Linked DNA regions of Homo sapiens: region 1 is linked to region 2. The links come from fine-mapping of genetic effects on plasma protein levels. Region 2 holds a variant in brackets. A gene starts in the other region. All regions are shown on their reverse strands.

Evidence for each region. PIP is the chance, under the fine-mapping model, that this variant and not a neighbour inherited with it causes the effect. Protein levels are from antibody-based Olink assays in UK Biobank. Linkage for the fine-mapping came from a reference panel and not from the study's own genotypes, which makes the PIPs less certain.
Region 1: ANGPT1 starts here. The variant in region 2 is fine-mapped to the plasma level of the ANGPT1 protein (UK Biobank, PIP 0.91).

The regions. Positions count from the first base shown.
Region 1 is chr8:107,491,913-107,504,112 of GRCh38, reverse strand. ANGPT1 (angiopoietin 1) reads left to right here and starts at 6,195. Exons shown (of 9, transcript NM_001146.5): 1 at 6,195-6,851. The coding sequence starts at 6,555. RefSeq lists a silencer at 2,496-2,696.
Region 2 is chr2:224,004,410-224,016,609 of GRCh38, reverse strand. All of the region lies in intron 1 of SERPINE2 (serpin family E member 2), which reads left to right. LOC124907990 (a long non-coding RNA gene) reads right to left here and starts at 7,733. Exons shown (of 2, transcript XR_007088102.1): 1 at 7,453-7,733. RefSeq lists enhancers at 1,023-1,522, 6,613-7,188, 6,113-7,312. The variant C/T (reference allele first, on the strand shown) is at 6,453.

The sequences.
Region 1 (12,200 bases), not on the chromosome of region 2:
CAAAGTAGTTTATATGCTTTTTATAATAAAATCTCACTGGGTCTCCAATGGAAATCCTTCTTCATTCTCGTATGAGGGGAATGTTGGCATCTGTATTTCTGCATGGTACAGTCCTCAGCTGTTTGTTTTCTTTTCTGGCTTGCGTATTTGTAGAAGTTACCTTCATTGTAGAATTAACAACTAATCTCACATTGAGAGGTATTTCTGAGATGTTTCTTGAATGGTTTTTCAACCGTGGCAATGTTCATAGGTGGCTGGAAGTATTAGGTATTATTCCACTACCACTGCTGGGATTGACTTTTGGAATCTATGGACTCTGGGTGCCTTCTATGACTCACCACAAAGTGAGATCTCTAGGGCCTATGCAAGTCTAGCACCTGAAAACTTGTAAGGGACTGGCTCTGTGTCTTCACATCTCATCATTGAGATTTAAGGTGAATGAATCAGACAGTCAGCTGGATATTTATAAAGTTCATCCTCTGTGCCAGGAAAAGGGGACAGACAGATCAATAAGACAGACACAGTTCTAGCATTTGGGACTCTGATCTAGTGTGAAAAACAAACCTGAAACAAATGACTTCAATTGCATTCACATTAATAGTCTGTGTAATCCATATGTTAGCTGTTCCCATGCTTGAAGCAAAGACCAATTCTTCAATTCCTCTTATTCACCTTTAAGAAGTCATTTGCCCCAAAGTATATATTTTACTGAAACAGATAAGACAAATTTGATCTCACTGGAAACATTATTTCACTCCAAATCTCCTTACTTGATATATCTTCCCAAGTCTCTCATGGCCACACAGCCACAAGCCTCCTCTCTCTTTCAGCAGCTCTGCCTGACACAGAATCTCTAAACCTCTCTAGCTCCAGTCCTCCACTTCTAGATCTTTTCCTGAGTCTCTTAATCCCTTCTCTCCTTTCTTAGGTAGAGCAAATTAATTCAGTCTCAGCGGTTTCCACCTTGTATATCTATAGTTTAAAACCAACTTAACAGGCTGAGCCTGGTGGCTTACGCCTGTAATCCCAGCAGTTGGGGAGGCCGAGGCTGGTGGTTTGCTTGAGTCCAGGAATTCGAGACCAGCCTGGGGAACATGGTGAAACTCCATCTCTACAAAATAATACAAAAATTAGCCGGGTACGATGGTGCATGCCTGTAGTCCCAGCTACTAGGGAGGCTGAGGTGGAAGGATCACTTGAGCCTCAGAGGCAGAGGCTACAGTGAGCTGAGATCATGCCACCGCACTCCAGCCTGGGTGACAAAGCGAGACCCTGTCTCAAAAATAAAATTAAATTAAACCTACTTAACAAACAAGATACCTAACAATTACCAGAAATTTCTGTCATCAAAAGACAGAGGAATATTTATATGATAATTTTTATTTTCCTCACTTATCTATATGCCTCCAGTCCTCATCCCACTTGCTGCAGTGTTTCCAGCTTTTTGTAGCATCCTCCCAGTTATTCTGGGAGTTCTAAATGGATATTTTGCATGTACTCATGAAGTGCCTTCAGTTACCAGATGATATCCTCCATCTTCTTCTGTTTTTGGTTTTGTCCCCTGTGATATTTCCAACTGTTGTGGATACCTTTGCTGCCTACATAGTTGAGTGAAGGTGTCTTGGCTCTGCTTCCAGGAGCTACAGCCAAGTGCCCTCCCTCCTTTTAGATAGAGCTGCCACTTCTATAGGCCTGATGATAGTCTTGATCCCTAAAAGTGCCTGAGCAGAGTCACAGAATATGGCACCCTTGGTGTGGTGAATCACATTGTGTTCAGAACACAAAGTAGGAGAATACTTTCCCACCCCTTTTTCCCCTATAAGTGGTTGTATAAATACCAGAGGACTATTTCCTTGAATCTCATTGCCTGGTGGTATTTTTGAGAAATAAATACTATTTTTTTTCATATATTTTGATTTTATTGTAGAGCAGGAGTGATGATCAAGATATCTAACAGATGACATGGCATAGGACCAACCATTTAGAATATTTCTAAAGTATAATCCGATTAATCAGATTGGCTGTTGGTAAGCATATCTTACCATACTGGTGCATCCTGATTTAATATTATCCCTGTTTTGGAAGATCATAACATGAATCTGTGAAAGCCCTGGGTTTCAGAGGAAAGGGACCTCTGAAGGGGGAAGTCACCATGTTGTTCTTGTTCCCTAAATTATAAGAAATATTTTCTCAATACTGAAGTATTGTCATAAACAATATAGCTCAGTGGGAAATGAATGTGAGCCTCACAGTTAGATGGATTGAGGATCAAATTCCTGTTCTGCCTCCTAAGAGATCATAGATCCTGGGCGATTAATCTCTATGGCTCCACATTTCTCATCAGCAAAATGGGAATAATAATATATAATATTACATAATTATGGGGGTTCTGTAAACATTAGATGAGAAAATTATTTGTTAAGTGTTAAAAAATACTATGAATTATTATTGTACTTTGCTCTTGCGTCTAACTCATTCTTTAGAATAAGTTTGGCTTTATCCTCAGTTCTTCATGCCTAGGGATTCTAGGCAAACTCACCCAACAAATGCAATGAATGTGGCCAGTCATGTAGTAACCAGATAGAGAGTCAGGAAGTTGCATCAACTGAGTCATTAATCAGCTCATTCATTTATTTGCTTATTCTTTCATTCCTTCAGACAAAGTGCATAGTGAATGTTGAGGAATCAATGATGACAAAGAGAAGATCACTTTAGCAGCTCACAGCAAAAGCAAGAGACAGATAAAAAAAAAGGCAACAATTAGCAAGCAACGTGAGCAGTGCAGTTTTGGAGACATGAGGAGAAGGTTATTGAAATTTAACACAGAGAGCATTTATTGGACCTGGAGAAATTAAGAAAGCTTTACCAAAGAATTATCAAAGACTGTTTCTTAGGATAGATTTAGGCACATTAAGTTCTGGTATAAATGGCTCTTGGTCCCTTTGGAAATTTCAGACTAAGTGGGACATTTACTAGGACTCTTTGTAAATATGAGATCAAAACCTTAAAGCCTACACTTCCTTATTCCAGATCTCTAATAAAACACAAAGCTTTTGGGTTCAAGCTACCACAGAATTCAATTGAACAGAATTGTTTAGTTCTTTATAAATATTTTATCCTTCATGGAGGTGTGGTAGATGAATTTTAATTGGCTTGTTCTTATTACTCGCTTATTATTATTATTATTATTTAGAAAGGGTCTCACTCTGTCATCCAGGCTGGAGTGCAGTGGCAATCATGGCTCACTGCAGCCTCAACCCCCTGGACTCAAGCGATTCTCTCACCTCAGCTTCCTGAGTAGCTGGGACCACAGGTCCTGGGCGTGCCACCACACCTGGCTAATTTTTATTTTATTTTATCTTGGGTAGAGACAGGGAGGGTCACCCTATGCTGCCCAGGCTGTACTCAAAATCCTAGTCTCCAACGATCCTCCCACTTCGGCCTCCCAAAGTGCTGGGATTACAGGCATGAGCCACTGAACCCAGCCCTACTCCCTAAATTTTAATGCATCCTGAATTCTGCCCCATTTCTGAATAATCAGCAACACACAACAGTGTTGCTGTTGCTTAGATGCATGATCCCAAAGACATATTATCTTTAGTGTGTCAGGATCCTTAAATGTACCTACAGTCTCCTTAACTGGAGTTCCAAAAACACCGGAGTCAATTCTGCACATCCTTGTGTTTTCTAATTACTTAAAATTCATCTTCAGACATTTTTTTTCAGAATGACACTAGTACTTCCAGTGTTATGGTTTAAGGTTGATTTTGTTTTTCTGCAAAAGAAATAAATCAGTCTCTACATTTTTCTCTGTCTCTTTGTCCCTCGACCCCTCCTTTTTTATTTGCATTTCAGGCTTCTCTTTCTTAGTGTCTACTTTTCCCTCAGGAAATTGTGCATTCCTGCTTTTCATTTATTCTAATTGCGAAAATTCACATGGATAAGGACACAGAGACGTACACAGACACACACGTGGAGGAACAGATTTTTAACAGTCTCGGCTATTTAAAAACACAGGAGCACTTTAATAGAAACCTCACCACTCATCCATTAGTCTTCTGCCAATTTTCTGCTGTATTTAGTTCTTCGCAAAACACTTCTAGGTGTCGGGTTTGGACTCTCTTCTTTCCATGGATAATTTTCAAATCAAGCATTATTGGAAAGTGTTCTTAGACAACCTGCATTTTGCCAGTGCACTTCATCTTTGTGGCTGTGCATAGGTTACCTGTCACTGTGTGTGTGCGTGTGTGCGTGTGTGCGTGTGCGCGCGCACGCGTGTGCTGGAAAAGGCCTGAATCACTTTGGAGAGATACTCTGGTTTTAACAGTGCTTTTTCTTCTAGGTACGTCACTTCTCCTGGTTTAGGACTGTAAATCAATGCAGCTGGAGCGCTTTTGAAATTGCTTTCATTCCTTGCAGAGATTTCCAAAAGCAGGCTGGCCTGGTGGTTTGAAACAGGCTCTGAGTCAGTTTGCCTGAGTTCACATACTGGCGCCATCACTTGCCAGCTCTGTGAATTACATCCTGTTAGCCTTTCTGTGACTCAGTCTTCCCATTGATAAAATGGGGTTAAACGGATGATATCCGTGATCTTAGGTTTGTTGGAATGATTAAGTGAGATAGTGTGTAAGGAGTGCTTCGCCTGGAAAACAGTAAGGTCTTAATGCATGCCATTATTATTGTTGCACAGGAGTGATACATGACTCAATGAGGAGACACGCAAAAGTTCAAGAGGCTGCAAAAGTGGTTCAAATATTTTATTGCTGTGTTTGGCATAACTTGCTTCCATATCTGTCCAATCAGAAATTTGTTATTTGGTGTGGAAAGGACTGATGAATCTCGGCAAGGTTTCTTTCCCCAAGTAAATCGCATTTGTTCTGGAATTTGTTTTGACCTCTCCTCTAACTTCTCCCTAAATGCCCATCTCTAACCACTACGGACCTTCACCCACTGCCCTGTTCTCCTTCCAAGACATGGGAGATGACAGCTGTGGCTTCTGTTTTCACACCATGACTGCAGTTGTCTAAAAGCCCTCCCAGTTCCTAATGAAAATCCCAACTCATAATTCAGGTTTTCTGCATCTAGTAAAGATCTCAAAGCCGTTCCCTAAATTCTACAATTATTGCCTGTTTATGTTTATGGGTCCCTTTGTTCAAATGTTTATACGCTGCCTGTGGGAAATCATCTTCTGATAATTTTTCTTTCTTCCTTCACAGAAGCACAGAGATGTCTCCTGTACAGCCCATTGCTGGCTGTTAGCACACCTGATATATGCTTGTTCTCACATAGTATGTCTGTGCAGCCACAGGAGGTTTTTATGTGGAACTTCCACACCAGTGTTAAAGACAGCCATAGCCACCAAAGAGATCCTTGTAAAATACAGGATTAGGATATACCACAGGAATTAATAATTCTCAAGCCACTGCTTTAAATTGTAGCCACATTGTTTTTGTAGGGAAGTTGCTCAATTTATATACACAGAACATGAAGGGTTGCATTCTGATCAGGACACCAGTTTCATTTAAGAACCCTATACCAAAAGGTACTTAGATAACCCTCTTTAATATGCACATACTATATTGCTTTGTGCAACATATTGCTTTGAGCAACAAATGATGCTAATTTTCTTGCTAATTTGATCCTCTCTGATTATTTTCTTCAACTCCTAAAAGTCTAAGTGAATACAATGAAAGAATACCATCTGTAAAAACTGTTTTTTAACATATTTTTCCTCAGAGTCAAGAATACATGTTTTTTAAAGACATTTAATAATGATATGGGTTTATCATTCTCTATCAAAAATAATTCCATTGGACATTATGCCAATTTTCTTCTTAGGGTCCCTCGACTAAATAGTAACTTTAAAAACATACTGCTAGTTTGCTATATTTTAGTAGGTCAGCATGCACACCAAAAGTGTATTAAGGTGGACTGCTCTATTTATTGATTTGCCATGAATCTGCTAAAGGCTCAAGGCAATTGTCTGTGGAAAGGGGCGGGAGGGCCATACATGATCGAGGTCATGCGCATCTAGCCAATTTGTAAGACGATCCCGCCGCCCTAAGCCATCAGCAATCCTTAGTATAGGGGCACACTCATGCATTCCTGTCAAGTCATCTTGTGAAAGGCTGCCTGCTTCCAGCTTGGCTTGGATGTGCAACCTTAATAAAACTCACTGAGGTCTGGGAGAAAATAGCAGATCTGCAGCAGATAGGGTAGAGGAAAGGGTCTAGAATATGTACACGCAGCTGACTCAGGCAGGCTCCATGCTGAACGGTCACACAGAGAGGAAACAATAAATCTCAGCTACTATGCAATAAATATCTCAAGTTTTAACGAAGAAAAACATCATTGCAGTGAAATAAAAAATTTTAAAATTTTAGAACAAAGCTAACAAATGGCTAGTTTTCTATGATTCTTCTTCAAACGCTTTCTTTGAGGGGGAAAGAGTCAAACAAACAAGCAGTTTTACCTGAAATAAAGAACTAGTTTTAGAGGTCAGAAGAAAGGAGCAAGTTTTGCGAGAGGCACGGAAGGAGTGTGCTGGCAGTACAATGACAGTTTTCCTTTCCTTTGCTTTCCTCGCTGCCATTCTGACTCACATAGGGTGCAGCAATCAGCGCCGAAGTCCAGAAAACAGTGGGAGAAGATATAACCGGATTCAACATGGGCAATGTGCCTACACTTTCATTCTTCCAGAACACGATGGCAACTGTCGTGAGAGTACGACAGACCAGTACAACACAAACGCTCTGCAGAGAGATGCTCCACACGTGGAACCGGATTTCTCTTCCCAGAAACTTCAACATCTGGAACATGTGATGGAAAATTATACTCAGTGGCTGCAAAAAGTAAGTGATTGCTTTCAGTTTCTAATAGCACGGACCTTTTTCCTTTCTTGCACTGCAGCTAACTTAAAGTTCCTTAGGGGAGCATTTGTGTATTTACCTTTTGCTCCAGGGGGGCAGTGTTTGCAATTGCAAGACGGCTGTCTGGGTTTGGCTTCCTGGGTAAGCCAAGGTTTGGGGGCTTGCCCAAACCTATGAATGTGTGGGGGCACCCCGTTTGTGTGTCTAGCCCTGGCAAATTTTATGACATTTTTGGTTTCTCTTTTCTAAAGTTCAGCATTAAGGTTCTCTCTGTCAAAACACTACCTTAAGAAAGAAAGTATGTACCTCTTAAGCAAGTTGGTGAAAAATAAATAATAATGACAATATTAATTAATAAGATCAAATCGATTTTGCACCAGAAAATTTTGTGCCGCTGGGGTGGCAAATCATCACAAAGTATTTGTTTTTTTAACCTTTATAAAAATTAACATGAAGTGAGAGTAAATATAAAATATGATATTTGGTTGGAGAAATTGTATATTTATGTAAAGGGAACTGTTAGTTTCAGCAAGTGGTAGAATAGTAGACTGATTTCTGTTAAATATTTTTTTCTTCTGTCCTTGAGAAAAAAAATTAAAAAGATACATTGTAATGTTAACTGTCGGAAAGGGGTTGCTCGCTCACGATGAGGGCATGCTGGCTGTTGAGGAAGACATGCACCTGCAGATATGGGCTGAACGCAGCATGTAGTCTACTATATTCCTGAAATACCTCCCTTCTCAGGGCATTGTAGTTAGAGACAGTACCTGGCGAGTTTAAGTATCCATGTTATTTGATGAATGTTAATGTTGAGTATGAATGTAATCTCAATTTATAGAAATCAAATCGAATAGTTTATCCAGTTATTTATCTACAAACCATTTAAGTTTTTGTTGAAGATAAGCCTATTAAATTATGAACACACTTCTGCAATTCATTCTGTCTTTGCACTCTGTTTAATAATAGGCAGCCGAGAATAAGTATATTCAACTGACTATGCTACTAGAAGGGAGGCAATGTCTCAATTTGTGAAAAGCTTCTCTCCCTTGTTAATGGATTCACTTGGTACATGTAGATAGGTATGCAATCAGGCTTCTTTAAGTTAGTCTGTTAACCGGGCAATCCCTTTAAAAAGATAAAAGATAGGGAAAGGACAAATGCTCTATTTTGTTCCTGTGTGGTCACACTCACTTAGGTCATTGCCTGCTGAATCATGCCAAGTAATAGTTATTCTACTTTTGTCCACTAGGGACTGAACTAAGATCACTGTTATTTTATTTGACACATTAACTGGAACTTAGTAGTTCTACAGTTTCCAAAGCTGATATTGTAATCTTTCTATTACAGACTATAGGACTGTAATAGGCAATCAGTAGGTAGGCAGAAGAATAAAAAGCAAACAGAACTCTCAGGTTTTTTACAATTGTAGCTGAAATTTTATGCATTACTTTCAGTAGTAGTTTATAATAGGATGTTTGTATTTTTCTTTGGTAAAATTTATTTCCATTGTAAACAAATGATTTTGGTTGAACAGCTTGTTATTATTCTTCAGTACACCATCCGTATAGTTTTTAGTGAGAATTCAATCATTACATATTAGTCTGGATTCTTTGAGGGAACGGGAAGGAAAATTTAGTCCCAAGTTATCCTGAATGATCTATTCTACCAAAAACGTAATGTTTTGTTTGCTTAAAGCGTATAATCACAATAGTGATTCAAACATAGTAATGCATATTTCTTGTTGCTATGCAATTATTCAGCAGTGACAGGGTAAACACATAATTCTGCTGGGCTTAAATCATGCACGTGTTTCATATGTTAATTTATTTTGCAAAATAAATTTGATTCTTGTTTGCATTGTTCTTGGTCAATGATTATGGGATAGCTTTCAGATTATAGCCAAGAATAACTATTAAAATGTTCTTTGGTTACATTCACCCTTTCAAGTGTAAAAATCAAGCTGAATATATGCTGAAAACGTCCCTATTGGTATGAGTCAGAGCAATGTGGCTTGACTATTGTCAGTTTAAATTTGCATATCTTTTGTCATTGTCAATGTGATTGGTTGGAGGATCAAGAAACCAAAAAATGCATTCAGCAAAGAACTTGCTAAAGGCTTTCATAAGTTTCCCTTAATTAGGAGTTTTCTTCACTCCAAGTTCTAAACTTCATGTGATATTTTTATTCTGATAATTGAAATGGAAATCTTTTTACTGTAACCATTTGGTATGCTCAGTACTGCAATTTGTATTACTTCTATTTTGATTCCAAGTAGTTGCCATAGGAAGAAGCAACACCCTGCAGAAACTGAGGCTATCAGTGTATGTAGGTGAAATTAATTTATCCATTTATTTGGCAAAATAATTAATCAAAGCATAGTGATTATTATGCAGCTCATGGCATCGCTATCAGGAAAGGTTTTGAGGCAGAATAGATGTGTTATCAACTCTAAATGAAGCTATATGATAATTATGTTAATCCATCACCTTCCATGAAGGGAAACCTCCTTCCTCAACTTTTCTGGTCTTGCAACTGAACAGGATGAGAAGCAAGGCATGCAAGGGGGCAAATGATTTGTGGGTCACCATAAATACTGGAACTGTTATGGCACTGCTTTCTTGATGTGATGGATTTAATTCAAAGAAATCAACTTTCCATAATCACTTGTCGATTAAAATGAGGTAGGTTGATAGCATTATTGTGACATCTCAGACCAGGAAGGGTGGTGTGAATAATATGCCTAACATCATAGTTTTATTTTGTGAAACACCTGGGTGTGTTTCTGGTTTGATCTCTTCTGTAATACAGCTCTTTTTGGAATTATTAGCAAGTCATAGTAAATACCTGAGAGTGACCAGCTCTTAGATAAGTAATGATAAATACAGCTGGCCTCTGTGTCTTTGTCACTTTCTTATGATCTCTCCCTACCTCTCTATGACAGTGAAACATTTAGCCCACATCCTGTACTTTGTGAACTATTGTTTTCTGTCTCCCACATCTCAAAAAGTTCACAAAGATGTACATTTAAAATATTTAGATTTAAATATGTATAATGTTCTAAGATTTGGGGAATCCTTAGAAGATCTGTTTTGCTTTTGCCAAATGATGTCTTTTTTTGTTAAAAGTTTAAATAAATTGAGTCAATAATGCCTTGTAACAGAAAACAATAGTCTATTTGCTATACATATTTTACACTAGCTAAAATTGATGACTATTAATGGAAAATATAGTTATGAATTGCCATCCAGAATATTTTAAGAAATACAAAGATTTTACTGGACTATTTAGCTGTTTTTCTATTGACAACATTTTTTGGTTAAGGATGTCCCCTATTTGCATATTGTATTCTTTTCTTCAGAGTTAAGATTTGAAATGCTATTACCCAAAACACATTGATGATGACGATTTTTTTAAACCCATATATTACATATATATTAATCCCTATTAATATCCATTAGAATGTGACCTCCATGAGGCCAGTGACCATGTGTGTTTGTCCAATGTCATAACCTCAGTTCCCAGAAGAGTATATAACATATTTATAACAGATATGCAATAAATATGTGTTAAATGAAAAAATGAATGCATTATCTATTGCATTCTGCACTTTACTGTCTACTGTCAGCATTTTATTCGAGGTATACACCTTACCTCTTCAATAGATTGTAAGTTGTCCTATAGGCAAGGACTATAACCTATGGTTATTTTTGTCCTAATACTAGTTAAAACAATATTGGGTCCAGAGTAGGTGGTTATTAATTATTCAAATTATATTTAACCAGTAATCTAGAATCTCAAAAACTTCTCTAGTCACTCCAATTCATCTTCTTAATTATTCTTTAAGGGTCAGCTCTGTTGCCAGTTTCTCCAGGAAATCTACCCACACTCCACTTACCCTCCCAGGCTGAGTTCTCAAATGTCATCACAGTACATTGACTGTATCATGTTAATGCTGTAGTTCAAAGTTGTTGTGGTGGTTGTTTTAATTGTTTGTTTCTAGGCTTGTTTTCCCACCTAGACTGTGAGTTCCTCAAGTGTAGTAAATGTCGCTTATCCATTTTTATACCTCTGAACATGTTCATTAAGGGTCTGGATTAATTTTTTGTTATTGTAATAATCAGTTTTTAAGAAATCAAGTGCTCAAGTGTATAGTGGTAACTATAAAATAGTGAAAATTAAGGGACCTTGTAACTACTTTAAGATGCTAAAGTCTGCTTAAATGTTAGCACTAGGCTACTTGAGGGTCAGCTAGATATTCCTTTGTACAATAATGTTTTGTACTTCTATAAGCACAAGAACTTAGTATTTCTTGTTCAGTACAGTAGGGAGCCATTTACTGCATACATCTGTATAATATGTATATATCTGTATACTATATGCACATGAGAACTTAATTATAATAATATGCATCTGTATAATATGTGCACATGAGAACTTAATTATATTAATATACATCTGTATAATATGTGCACATGAGAACTTAATTCTCACTGGTATATTATTGTTTTGGTGGCCGGTGGTGGCTGTGCAACAGTCAGAGAGAATGCTCTTATGTTTTATTTTCACATTTGTGGGAACTTCCTAAATGTGTGAAATGGGTACATATTGGCCGGGCGTGGTGGCTCACACCTGTAATCCCAGCACTTTGGGACGCCAAGGCGGGCAGATCACCTGAGGTGAAGAGTTCGAGACCAGCCTGGCCAACATGGCGAAACCCTGTCTCTACTAAAAATACAAAAACTTAGCTGGGCCTGGTGGTGTGTGCCTGTAATCCCAGCTACTAGGGAGGCTGAGGAAGGAGAATGGCTTGAACCCAGGAGGCGGAGGTTGCAGTGAGCTGATATCGCACCACTGCACTCCAGCCTGAATGACAGAGCGGGACTCCATCTCAAAAAAAATAAAGTAGATATTTAGTAAGTATGATTTTAATAATTTGTCACTAAACGTGAAAATAAGATACATGCACAATTTATGCCTAGAGATTGGGAAAAGTAACAGTTGCTGAGAAAGATTAATAGAAATAATGATCTTTTAAATCGAGTTGTAGAAATGTCCCCATCAACTTCATTTGAAGAATAGACCTCTGATTTTCAAGCCAAGTAAGAGCCCTTCAGAATCTGTATTAACTTTTCAACAAATAGTTCGGTATTATTGGTTGCTTGTTACATTTTAGAATCAAAAGATCCAAAAAAAACCCTTTCAGACCCAGAAGTTAGGCAGTTAGTGTTATAACAGCCTTTTGGTAAACTGTCTCCATTGAGAGAGCTCAGGTTTTAGGGCTATGACAAGTAGGTCCTTTTCTATGAGTTTCTATGGGCAATTACAGTTCTT
Region 2 (12,200 bases):
ATACAGTTAAGTGCATGTTTAGTTTTGTAAGAAACGGCCAAACTTACATTAAAAAAAAATAAATAATAAACAGAAACTACCAAACTATTTTTTTTTTTTTTTTGAGACGGACTTTCGCTCTTGTCGCCCAGGCTGGAGTGCAATAGCACAACCTCGGCTCACTGCAACCTCCATCTCCCGGGTTCAAGCGATTCTCCTGCTTCAGCCTCCCGAGTAGCTGGGATTATAGGCACCTGCCGCGACGACTGACTAATTTTTATATTTTTAGTAGAGACAGGGTTTCACCATGTTAGTGAGGCTGGTCTTGAACTCATGACCTCGGGCTCAGGTGATCCGCCTGTCTCGGCCTCCCAAAGTGCTGGGATTACAGGCGTGAGCCACTGCACCTGACCTACCAAACTGTTTTCTAGAGCGGCTGTGCCATTTTATATTCCCACCAGCAATGTGTGAGTGATCCAGTTTCTCTGCATCCTCACCAGCAATTGGTGTTGTCACTAGTATTAGCCATTCATCTGGACATATAGTGACATCTCATTGTGGTTTTAAAAATTTGGATTTCCCCAGTGGCTAATGATGTTGAACATCTTTTAATGGACGTATTTACCATTTATACATCCTCTTTAATGGAATATCTATCCATGTCTTTTATTTCCTAATCCGATTTTTTTTTACAGTTGGGGTTTAAGAGTTTTCTGTGTAGTCTAGATACTAGTCCCTTGACAGATACGTGATTGGAGAATATTTTCTCCTAGTCTCTTCATCATCTTTGCAGGATCTTTTGCAGAGTAAAACTTTTCATTTTGATGAGGTCCAATTGATCAGTTTTTCAGTTTATCAGTTTTTCGTTTTATGAAACTCAGGCTTTTAATGTCAACTTAGGGTTTTGATTCCTGCCTGTTGTCATGCGCAGTGCCGGGTGGTGAGAAAGAGAGCCATGGAACAAGATAGACACTGGAGTGTGAATGATTCTTCCAGTTTCTGTCCGGTTGGGTTCTGCAGTATGTCTTGATGAGCTGCCTATTTGTTGGAGTCATGGACACAGAGTTGCCCTTGTCTTGCAAAGGCTGTAAGGTGATGATGGTATGAAAGGAAAAATATTTCCAGAATAATCCATGGTACCTCCCAACACAAGGTTTGTTTGCACTTGAGAGCTTCTGTCTGGAATACTCTTCCTTGCTTCCATCTCTCCGCCCCTTTGTCCAGTCACTTCCAGTCCATCCTCCAATGTCTGCCCATGTGGCCCTTCCCAGGAGCACTTCCCTGGCCACTGCCTCTCACCCTGGCCCAGGTGTGCCTCTGCTTCCATTCTTACACACTCTCCTCGATGTCAGAGCATTTGTAAAGTAAATACGTGAAAATGAAAGTAAATATCAAGTAATAAGACGATTTGATTAAGGTCTGTTTCCCCTCTAGACCAGGCTTCCCCAACCTTGGCACTACTGACATTTCGCTGGATAATTCTTTGTTGCAGGCGGCTGTCTTGTGCATTGTGGGTGCTGCTCAGCAGCACCCCTGGCCTCCCCCCACCTAGCAGATGCCACGGCACCACCCTCCCTGGCCCCCACCTACCAGATGCCATGGCACCACCCTCCCTGGCCCCCACCTAGTGGTGAAAACCAAAAAAAATGTCTTCAGATAGTGCCAAATGCTCCCTGAGCGACAGAGTCACCCAGGTGGAGAACCATGCCTTGAGACTCTGAGAGGTGGGAGGGCAGGTACCAAGCCCCTTTTCATGCCTATTCTCTCTCTAGCATCCCAGCGCCAGGCCTGGCACTGTGGTGCTTCATTAATATTTGTAGGATAAATTAAGGGATAAACCAACTTAATAGGGGACACTTGTTTACACGGCAGCCTTGGAAATGCTACCCTGACTTCAAAGGAACAAAGTGGGTTTTGTTGGGCACTTGAGACCCAGGAGAATCTAGAGTCTTCTGTATTCAGGTGGATATGGGTTTCCTTATGCAGTACCCAAGACAGCCCCCACACTGAAGAGTTATGTCAGTAGTGCCGAGATAAAGAAAGCCTGCTCTAGGGCACAAGAGAACACACATTCCCACTCTCGCCCCAGGCGCCACACAATGATCCCTCTGACTTTCCCTCTGACTTTCCTTAGTTTAGAATCAGAGTCTCCGTCTGAAGTCCTAGACTGTTTCTCATCAATGCAATGACTGCATTGATACCAATTTACCTAGTGGTTCTCCCTGGAATTTTTCTTTTTTTCTTTTTCTTTTTTTTTGAGACAGTGTCTTGATTGTTGCTCAGGCTGGAGTGCAGTGGCATGATCTTGGCTCACTTCAACCTCTGCCTCCTCGGTTCTAGTGATTCCCCTGCCTCAGCCTCTTGAGCAGCTGGGATAACAGGTGTGCGCCACCATGCCTGGCTAATTTTTGTATTTTTAGTAGAGATGGGGTTTCACTGTGTTAGCCAGGATGGTCTCGATCTCCTGACCTCAAGTGACCTACCCACCTTGGCTTCCCAAAGGGCTAGGATTACAGGCATGAGCCACCTCGCATGGCCACTCCCTGGAATTTTCAAGCCAAGGCTTCTCTATTTGGGAGAGGAAGGAATGAGGCCAGTTACTTTTGTGTATCCTAGAAGGGAAAGGATGTGGTACTGGTAATTGAAGCTTTGGCCTGCCAGCCCACCTTATCCAATTTGTCAGCCCAGGTTCATCTACATCCTGTTGAGAAGTTTGGCAGCTGGAGGTGGACATGCACACACTACACTGAACCTCCTGCAACAAGCACTGCGGAAGGTGTGAACCCCAGGCTGAGTGACTGGGCAGCTGTTCCTCTGCAGGAATAGAGGAGCCCCAGCCTCCTGACACGGTGCACCTCCTGAAACCCACAAAGCAGCAGTAGGGAACCGTGGATGACATTACCAGTCCTCCCCACCTACCGCCTGGTCACTCCTTACAGGCTGCCTTTTTCTTCCTAAGCCAAAGCCAGCTCTATCATTCAGGTTCAGGAAACAGAACAGCCAGCCACTGAGAGAAAAACCTAAAACATTCATATATAATCTAAATTATTCTTACAACCACTGTTCTTACTCCCTGGGAGCTTTCTAAACCAATTTTATCCAGTTACCTGCTTAGCTAAGCAAAACGGAGCCCAAACCCCTGCTTCCCTCCTCTTCCTCGTGAAAAGGGAGCAGGACCCAGCTAGAGGGAAAGTGCAAGTGAACACTGCATTAGGTCTCCAAACCGCCCTGTGCAAGTCACCCCAGAAAGGCCACCTGAAGGAGGGCCTGTCCTGTCTGCTGGGAGGCCCTCTTTTTCTCACAAGGAGAGTCCATGCCTTATGGATAAACAGAGATGCCTTTTCTAGGCTGTGAGAGCACCACTTTGGCAGTGTTCATGGAGGATATGGGGTTTTATCAGGCAGGAACTCAGCAGCTCCCACGTTCCTATTTCAGTGAGCCGGGGAGAAAGGCAAGGAAACCCAACATATATTGAGTTACTACTATATACCAGGTACTATGCTAAACACAGAGAATAAAAAAATTAAGTCATAATCCCCACCATTAAATATCTAATATGTAGATTTGGCCACATACATAGGTCAAATCATGTTCACCAAAATAACACCACCATTTACTGAAAAAACTCAACATGAAATGGTCTGTGGGTTGTAATGGGGTGTAACATTCATCTTAGTGTATATAAAAAGATTCCACTTTATTATTTCTCAACTCTTTCTCCTTTTCCAGTAAATACCATTTTTATTAAAGTTTTATGATCCTTTGGTTTAGCCACTGTTGTGCTCCATAACCTTCTCTGCTCCCCTTTAGAACACATTTCAGCTATTCCAGAGTCTCAGTTCCTGATAAAAGGAAAAGGGATGCTTGTTATAAGTGGTGATTTCATTACAGAAATTTTGAAGGCTACATAACGGTATACAGAATAATAAATATTCATATTCCCACCATCAGAAATAACTATATAGATATTTTAATATCTGTCCTGTTAGTCTTTTTTTGTGCCTGTGTATAATTTTTTTTTTTTTTTTGGGATGGAGTCTCGCTCTGTCGCCCAGACTGGAGTGCAGTGGTGGGATCTCGGCTCACTGCAAGCTCTGCCTCCTGGGTTCACGCCATTCTCCTGCCTCAGCCTCCCAAGTAGCTGGCACTACAAGCACCCGCCACCACACCTGGCTAATTTGTGCCTGTGTATAATTTTTACATAGTTAATTATACCATACTTTTTTCCAGTTAAGATATATCCAGAATGTATTACCATGTCTTTAAGTTTTCTTCAGAGATAGGTTCTTAACAGCCAAAGGATATTGTGTTGGATGGATGTCATTAACTGTTCCTTATTGTTGGACATTTTAGGTTATGTTCTCCCAGAAGCAATCCCTGAGCCAAGCATAAAGTGCAAGTGATTCATTAGGAAGTGCTCCCAGTTGAAATAGTAAGGGAAGGGGAGAAGTGGGAATTAGAAAGGGAAGAAACCAAGCAAGAAATACCAGGTGAAGTCCCACACTCAGAGCTCATGGGGAGCTCTGGAGAGTCAGTTAACAAGCAGACCAGTAGTCAATGGCTGTTAGTCCTCAGGGAGGGAGTGGTGTTTGTGAACTCTCAACCACTTAGGGCCAACCAAGAAAGTGGCCTTCAACTCCCACTAGTAATTGACCGAGGTAACAGGTATAAACCATTAGCAACAAAGCAGATAAAAACTAGGAGATAAGTGCACAAAGCTGGTAAAAGGTCACCCACAGTGTCCCCTCCATTGGAGATTTAATTTGCAATTATAATTGCTATTGCAATTATTTATTGCAGAGAATATTGCAATACTTTTGCTACTGAAAATAATAGTAAACATTTTTGGACCTGAATCTTTTTTATTATCACATTAGGATTGATTGATAGAAGGGGTATTACTGTTCCAATAGATAGATACATTATTAAGATTATTTATGCGTACTAGGGATTGCCTTTAAAAAAGATTTTTAAAAAATCAATTTACATTTCTAACACTTGACACTCATTTTTTAATTGGCAAGAATCCAGAGAGTGTTAGTTTCTCGTCTCTGAATTGGAGGCCCATAGGCATATCAGGGTTATTCTAAAGGATCAGAGAAATCATGTTCATGGCCCAGTTTTGATTATAGATTGATAAATAATATCTCAAAATATGATTTCTTAAAATGTATCTAGGTACTGATAAAAAGAATTTGGATTTTATTGACATGTTTAAGAATTCATGGTTGTATTTTATGTATTTTTACCAATACTAAAAACATGGTCATGAACTATGTGTAATATTTTTTATGTCTAAAAAAGGTACTTCCATGTCTCTTGCTGAAGAGAGAAATTAAAAAGGTACTTCCTTGTTTTTAAAGATTGAGAACCATTGGTCAATGTCACTATAATGTCTTGGGTCACCTCTTGGTTGCTGGATTAGGAAATCAGCCATTTGGACCATTACGTCTTAAAGACATATCAAAAAGAAAAGTCTATAGGACTTGATACATAGGTAAACCAGATTTAATGATCTGAGTCAGCAGACCGAAAAACATATCTCAGCACTATTAAAGGTTTTCTGGGACATACTCACCCCTCCCCCTCCATTCCCACAGTAATGGACCCCTCAGTTCTCTTACAGAGACGGCAAAACGCACCAGCATTGTCTTAATTTATTTCTGAGTCTTAAATAGTCTAAGGAAGTTATAAAGATACAGACAAGGCTTTATCAAGGTAGCAGTGTTTGACTGTTTTCTTAGCTTGATCCTTGAGACTTTCTAAATGGTTGCTGAAATACAAATCAGAGTATTTCAGGTCTTGAGCATTGAAGAGGACCAGAAGAAGAGAGCCAGCATTTACTGAACACTTGCTCTGAGCCAGGTATTAGGCTGGTTACTATGTCTTTCAGTTTGCACCTATTGAATTTCCATGGCCACCCTTGAGATATGATTTCTAATATGGCAGAGGACAAAGCTAAGACGGATGAAGATTGTGACTTGCCTTGGATCTCTTGGTTAATGGGTAGTAGGATTGGAATTTGAACTTTAGGTGAATTTTCCCGGAAACTTAGAGGAAAATAGAATGAATATCCTGTAATCTTGAATTTTAAAAGACAGACTGCTAACAAAGCTCTAATCCCCTCCTTCCCCCTAGCCTTTTCCCATCAACCCAAAGAGATTTCAGAATGGATAATATATGGATAAAAGGCACTTGATGTCAGAGTGTACTTTATAATAAAATATGTGTCTTTTCATTGAAGGGACCATTTGGATGTTGCTGCCATACTTTTCAGCGGCTGAAAAGGTATTTCCTAAACATTTTTAGGTTCCTTTTTGGCCAAATTAATTAGTGTCATAGAATGAGCATACACTTTGAAGGCAGACAAAAATTTAAGAAAAAATTCAGATGTCTCTAAGTCTTTCTCCACTAACCTGAAAAACACATTTTAAAACTACCAAGCTGCTGTCCCCTTGATAAGTTGGCATTTC[C/T]TGTTTGTTCTCTAAATTTTAAAGATGCTGAGTCATTTTGCTAGTACTTAGTACACTTCCCAAGGATAACCAAGATGTACTTTAGTTTGCTTGTTCACCTGATTTGGTATCATAAGAAAATGTGGTAGATGTTTGGAAAATGAATACAGGTCTTGGTGGACATTATTTCAGTAATGCTTATACAGATTTGAGAGACAGAGACCATATGTGAGGCTTAACCCCGATTACTTGTACATTAACAATTACTGTCATCTTACAGAGACAGCCTTAATCTCCATGGCTCACCTCCTGAAGAGTTTCTAGAATGCCTCTTGCCAAACACCGTTGAGTGTTGGCAAAGTACTGATGAGAAATGTTTGGTCTGAATGCTGGACAGCACGATTTTACTTAAGGCCATTCAGAAGTCTCAGTTTGGCAGCCACAAACCTTGCCTGTACATTTGTTTTGTTGTTGTTTTTTTTTTGAGACAGAGTCTCACTCTGTCACCTGGGCTGGAGTGCAGTAGCACAATCTCGGCTCACTGCAGCCTCCACCTCCTGGGTTCAAGCGATTCCCACACCTCAGCCTCTGGAGTAGCTGGGATTATAGGCATGTGCTACCACACCCAGCTGATTTTTGTATTTCTAATAGAGACAGGGTTAAGCCATGTTGGCCAGGCTGGTTTCGAACTCCTGGCCTCAAGCACTCTGCCCACCTCGGCCTTCCAAAGTGCTGGGGTTACGGGCTTGAGCCACCGTGCCCGGCCTGTACATTTATTTCTTTGGGAAGCCCTGGCAGGAAAAGCTGTTGAGAGATGTCATGATTCGGACAAAACATACCTGCTGTTTTTCTCTACCTGCTGTAGCCCCTGTAGATTAATAAGGGGCCTTAGGTTCCAAGAACCAGGATCCTAGCAACACAGAGACTAGAAGGATGGCGAGACTTTCCCAGTGCCTGAGAAGGTGTCAGCTTTCACTGAGGGGCGGGGAGGGGAGAGGCTGAGATAAATCCGGGGACTCACCTTGCCGTGCTGTGTGTCGGTTGTTTGTCGCTGGCATCTGCACTGTTAGGATTCCATTTTTAGGCTGGGCTTGATTCAGGAGGCTCGCTGCTGTCACACGAGGGCAATCCACTTTGATTCTCCCAGCCCAGCTTTTAATGCCCAGCAGACTCCTTTATCTTGTCATCATCCAGCGAGCCTCCCTCGGTCTAGATGGCCATGGGAGGCAAACCCGTTCAGTGTCAGCAGCTGGTCTTTCATAATTTGATTTTCCAGTGATGTTTGAGCCATCGGTGTGAAACAGTCACCAGTCTGGCTCTCATAATTTGAATTTCAGTATTTGGATATATTCCAGAGAGTGGTGTAAATGGACTTTGGATTTTCCTTATCACTGTTGCTCAGCATTTCCACAGTTTAAAACATTTAGGGTTTATTAGATAAGGGTGCTCAGTGCTACTGTTTCTCACTAAAAGGAACCAGAGCTCCCTGGAGAAGTGGCTGATTCCATCTGGAACAGAAGATGTATAAAATGAGCCTAAACATCTAGTCAAACCGGAAAGCAAGGAGGCTAACAAGACTGTAGGGTTGTATCAGAAGGTTTAAGAACGAGTGTGAAGAGGCTCATTTTGAGCACCAATAAGAATAAATTTGCAGTGGATCGAGACCCTTAAAGTATGTTGAAAAACACGAGTTTATAGTGATACAGAAAATAGAACCCTCTGGTCAATCAACCTATTTTGAATTATTTTGAAAACTGTTGGATATGGGAAATGAATGAAGAATTTGTCCTGCCCTTGTAACACAAAATAAACCTCAGGGCAACCAAGTAGTTGATTATGGAAAACTTCTTTTTATATAAATATTCTAATTAATAAGTGAGGGAGGAAAGTTAGAATTATAACAGCACCCACATTTGGTAACTCTTAATAAAACAGTGCACTTAGGCGGTCATCATAAGTAGCTTGCTAACACCACAAAAAGAGACAGTCAGCTACCGTCTACTGATTTCACCACCCTCTACGGCACCTCTACAAAATATTCTTACAAAAAGAGAAAATTGACTTGAATCTGATCAGTCCCTACAGCTGGGGTCAGCAGGCTTTTCACGTAGAGGGCCACATAATAACTGTTTTTGGCTTTGCAGGCTATACCGTCTCTCTTGCAGCCGGGCACCTCTGCTCAGCTCCCTATCATAGCACAGATGCAGCCATAAACAAAGAAAAAAGCGTGGCCAGATCTGGCCCATGGGCCGTAGCTTGCAGACCCCTGCTCTAGCTCTAACAGTTTACAGGAAGGACAGAAGACAGAGAAACTTGTTGAACAGCATGACATTAATGCAGTTAGCAAAATCTACCCTGGGGAAACTCTACAGGGCAAATAACCTGTTTTTTTCAACAGAAAAAATTCCAAGGTTAAAAATGAAGCAACTAGTGGAAGATGAAACAAACAAACAACCAAAAAAACAAAGGCAAGAGGTGTAACCAGTTGCAATGTATGGAGCTTACTTAGATCGTAATTCAAATATACTATAAAAAATGCGAACATGGACTAGATATTTGACATGTTAAGGAGTTATTTTGCGGTGTGATAATGATGTCATGGATATCTATTTTAAATCCTTAGGCTGAGTCTATATGTTGAAATTATTTTGAATGATATTATATGATGTCTGCAGTTAACTCCAAAATCATCTTTGATTTGAGTAGAAATAAACCAAGCCGTGAGTTAATAATTGTTTTTTCTGGATGTTGAGTATGGGGGGGAGTATTAAATATTTGCATATGTTTGATATTTCCCATGATATAATGTTTTTAAAAATATATGTATGTTTTATAAAACATGATCACTTTAAACCTTTTATAGAGAATGAGAGAGCATGGAGAACTTTTCCTTCATTAGACGCTTCTGTGTCCTCCCAAAATAGGTGTGCACCATCCAGCTATGAATGGACCCAGAAGAGTCTTTCCAGTGGTTTTTCCCACCAAGCTGTCTGCCTACAACTTACTTATTATGCTACATAGAGCAGACTAGTGTCATATTATTTATCATTTGTTCATGCACTATATGTAAACTTTTATTTCATAAAAAGAATTTATTAGGTAGAAAATGAGCTTCATGTTTTGTGTCTGGCTATCCTAGTTGCCACTGTTCAGTTGTTCAGCACTGGTTCCAGGCTAAGGGGTCTCGTCACAGGTGCTCACACAGCCTGGAGAGGTGATGGCAGTGGCGGCCATGGCAGGGTGTGAGGCAGCAGGGAGCAGCGGGAGCGAGGCACGCTGGAAAGTGGGTGCCCAGCCCATAAGGGGTGGCGTCTGTGCAGAACATTTGCCATGGGGGTGAGGGTCCAGTAGTACTAGAACGTCCACTCTTTTTCATTTTTCCTGAGAATAACCCTAATCTAGACTTGTGACATTTTTTGACTTTTAGTTGCTAAAAATATTTTTAGAATACTCTGTATTGCACATCAAACACTTGCTGGATTAGTCCCACGGGTCAACCTCTGATTTTGTGTCTACCAATGAATGGTAAGGCCCTAAACTGACCCTGTGGGCACCAGGAGTCTACAGTCCCTGCTTTCCGTGAGCTTCCAGTCTACTTGCGAGGAAAGAAAACATACTTGGAAAACAACTAAAATGAGACAGGCAAATAGGAAATGCTATAGGAATTCAAAGAAGAGAATAAAGAACCTCATCTTTAACAATCAGGAAAAACATCACACACACCGTGGAAGGAGTTGGGTAGAAGTGTCACTGTTGCTAGGTGGAGGCTAAGGGAGAGAAGCAGAGGCTCGGGCTTGGGTAAGCAAGCTCTTTCAACAGAAACTATGATTCTTGAAAAAGAGAAGAGTTGGTAGATTTTTGGAGACTAGTACCCCTCCCCACCAGTGGATAATTTTTCTGAACGATCAAGTGAAAACAGGTAGCAAACTGTTGAAAGTATAGCACTGCAATTCAGCAGAGAGTTTGAGGATTTGAGCTGCATATTTGAGCATCACCTGTGTAGAAGAGATGGTTGACGCCATTGGGTCTATAGAGAGTGGGTTCCTCTAATGTCTGCTATTGGCAAGCAGTCTATTTATAAATGTTAGGGTTATATTTTGAGTCTGGCATTTGCAAAACTACCATCCCATTATTTACTACGTTAAATCATGGTTAAAACTCAAAGCAGTACCCAGCTATTTCATAAACATTCCCCGTATTGGAAAGGAGAAAGGTTTGAAGTAAGAGAAACTAGAAGAACATAGGGAAGGAGATACCTGGCATTTGGAAGGATATGCCTGTGGCGATGGCTCTACTGATGGGCTTATGATCTTCCCTCCAATGATGGCCTAGAGACCTATTTTTACTGTTGTGAAACAATATTCAAGCAAATGATAATCTTCCATCTTGTTGCTATGCAGTACATTTGGGCAGCACTCTTATTTCTCTCTGATTTGAAAGTTTAAAGTGTAATTTCTCTTAAAAAGGAAAATAAACAGGAGGTTTCTATGTACTTCCCATTATGGCATCTGCTTGTTCCAGAGATCAAGCATTTCAAAGCTTGAGAACTCCAAGTTACTTCATGTAAACGATTGTCTATTTGGACATGAGTGTGTTTCATTGTTAGGAATTATGCAGGCCTAAAGTAATTTATAGATCAACACCCACTCTCCTGGCTACTGAACTTTGGAGAAAAATGAAAGCTTATTCTTAGACACGTATATAAGCCAGGTGAGTTTAGACGAGTGAGCATTTGGCCTAGGAAACCAAGGCCAAGGAGAAGTTCTGCCCAGCACATCAATCAAAAATAGCTCTGATTCCAAGTTCTGCACAGCTCTAACACTGTCCCAGTGCACTTTTATGAAACTGTACATAGACAGCTCTCAAAAACTTCCCAAGTCCAAGAAACCCAGAAAAACACCCATAACAGCTTTCTTCCGTGTCATAGGAAAACTGTTCTTTTAGCGAAAATTTATAATGAAGCAGAATTCTGCTAAATAAGATGGCTGTTTATTTGGGAGACTGTCCTTGTGACTTTAAGACATTGGAGCTGTTAGATTTCTCACTGTCACTGATCCTTTCACCCTGTTTTTACAATGTTTTATATATATATATATATATATATATATATATAATATATATAAAATATATAAAATATATTTATATATTATATAATATAATATATAATACTACATATATATAATATATATGTAGTATTTGAGTCTATCAACTTTAAGCTACCAGAGGCAAAACCAGTTTAATGTTCATGTCTTCTGAATCCAAATTCTAATATTTATTCAAATATTCACTAATCTAGGAGCATTTCTTTGGGGAGGCTTCAGGAGTACAGATTATAGTGGGCCGAATGTAGACACCAGAATAGACTATAATGCAAGAGACAACAATTGAGATGGATGAAGTTGGTCACTGCATTTGGCCATTTGTAAGAAAGATTGTACACAATGTTTTATACTTATGATGACTTTGTGCTATATTAAATTTTAAAGAGGATATTTATTGCTCAAAAGAAAGAAAAGGCAAGAGGGAGGAAGGAAGGGGAGAACACAGTTTCTAGTTTTTAGATGGAATGAATAAAGCTTCCACGGTCATGATTTGGACGCTCTCCAAAGTCCAGTAGGCTCCAGGAAACTCCAGGGATTGTCGTGGCATTAGAGCCAGTCCTAGGTGCCAAAGTCAAAATAGGCCACGCTGGCCCGTTGAGCCCAAGCGGGAGCAGCGTATGTAGGTCACTTACATGTTTTGAATTTAGACGGGCTGAGTTGATACAAT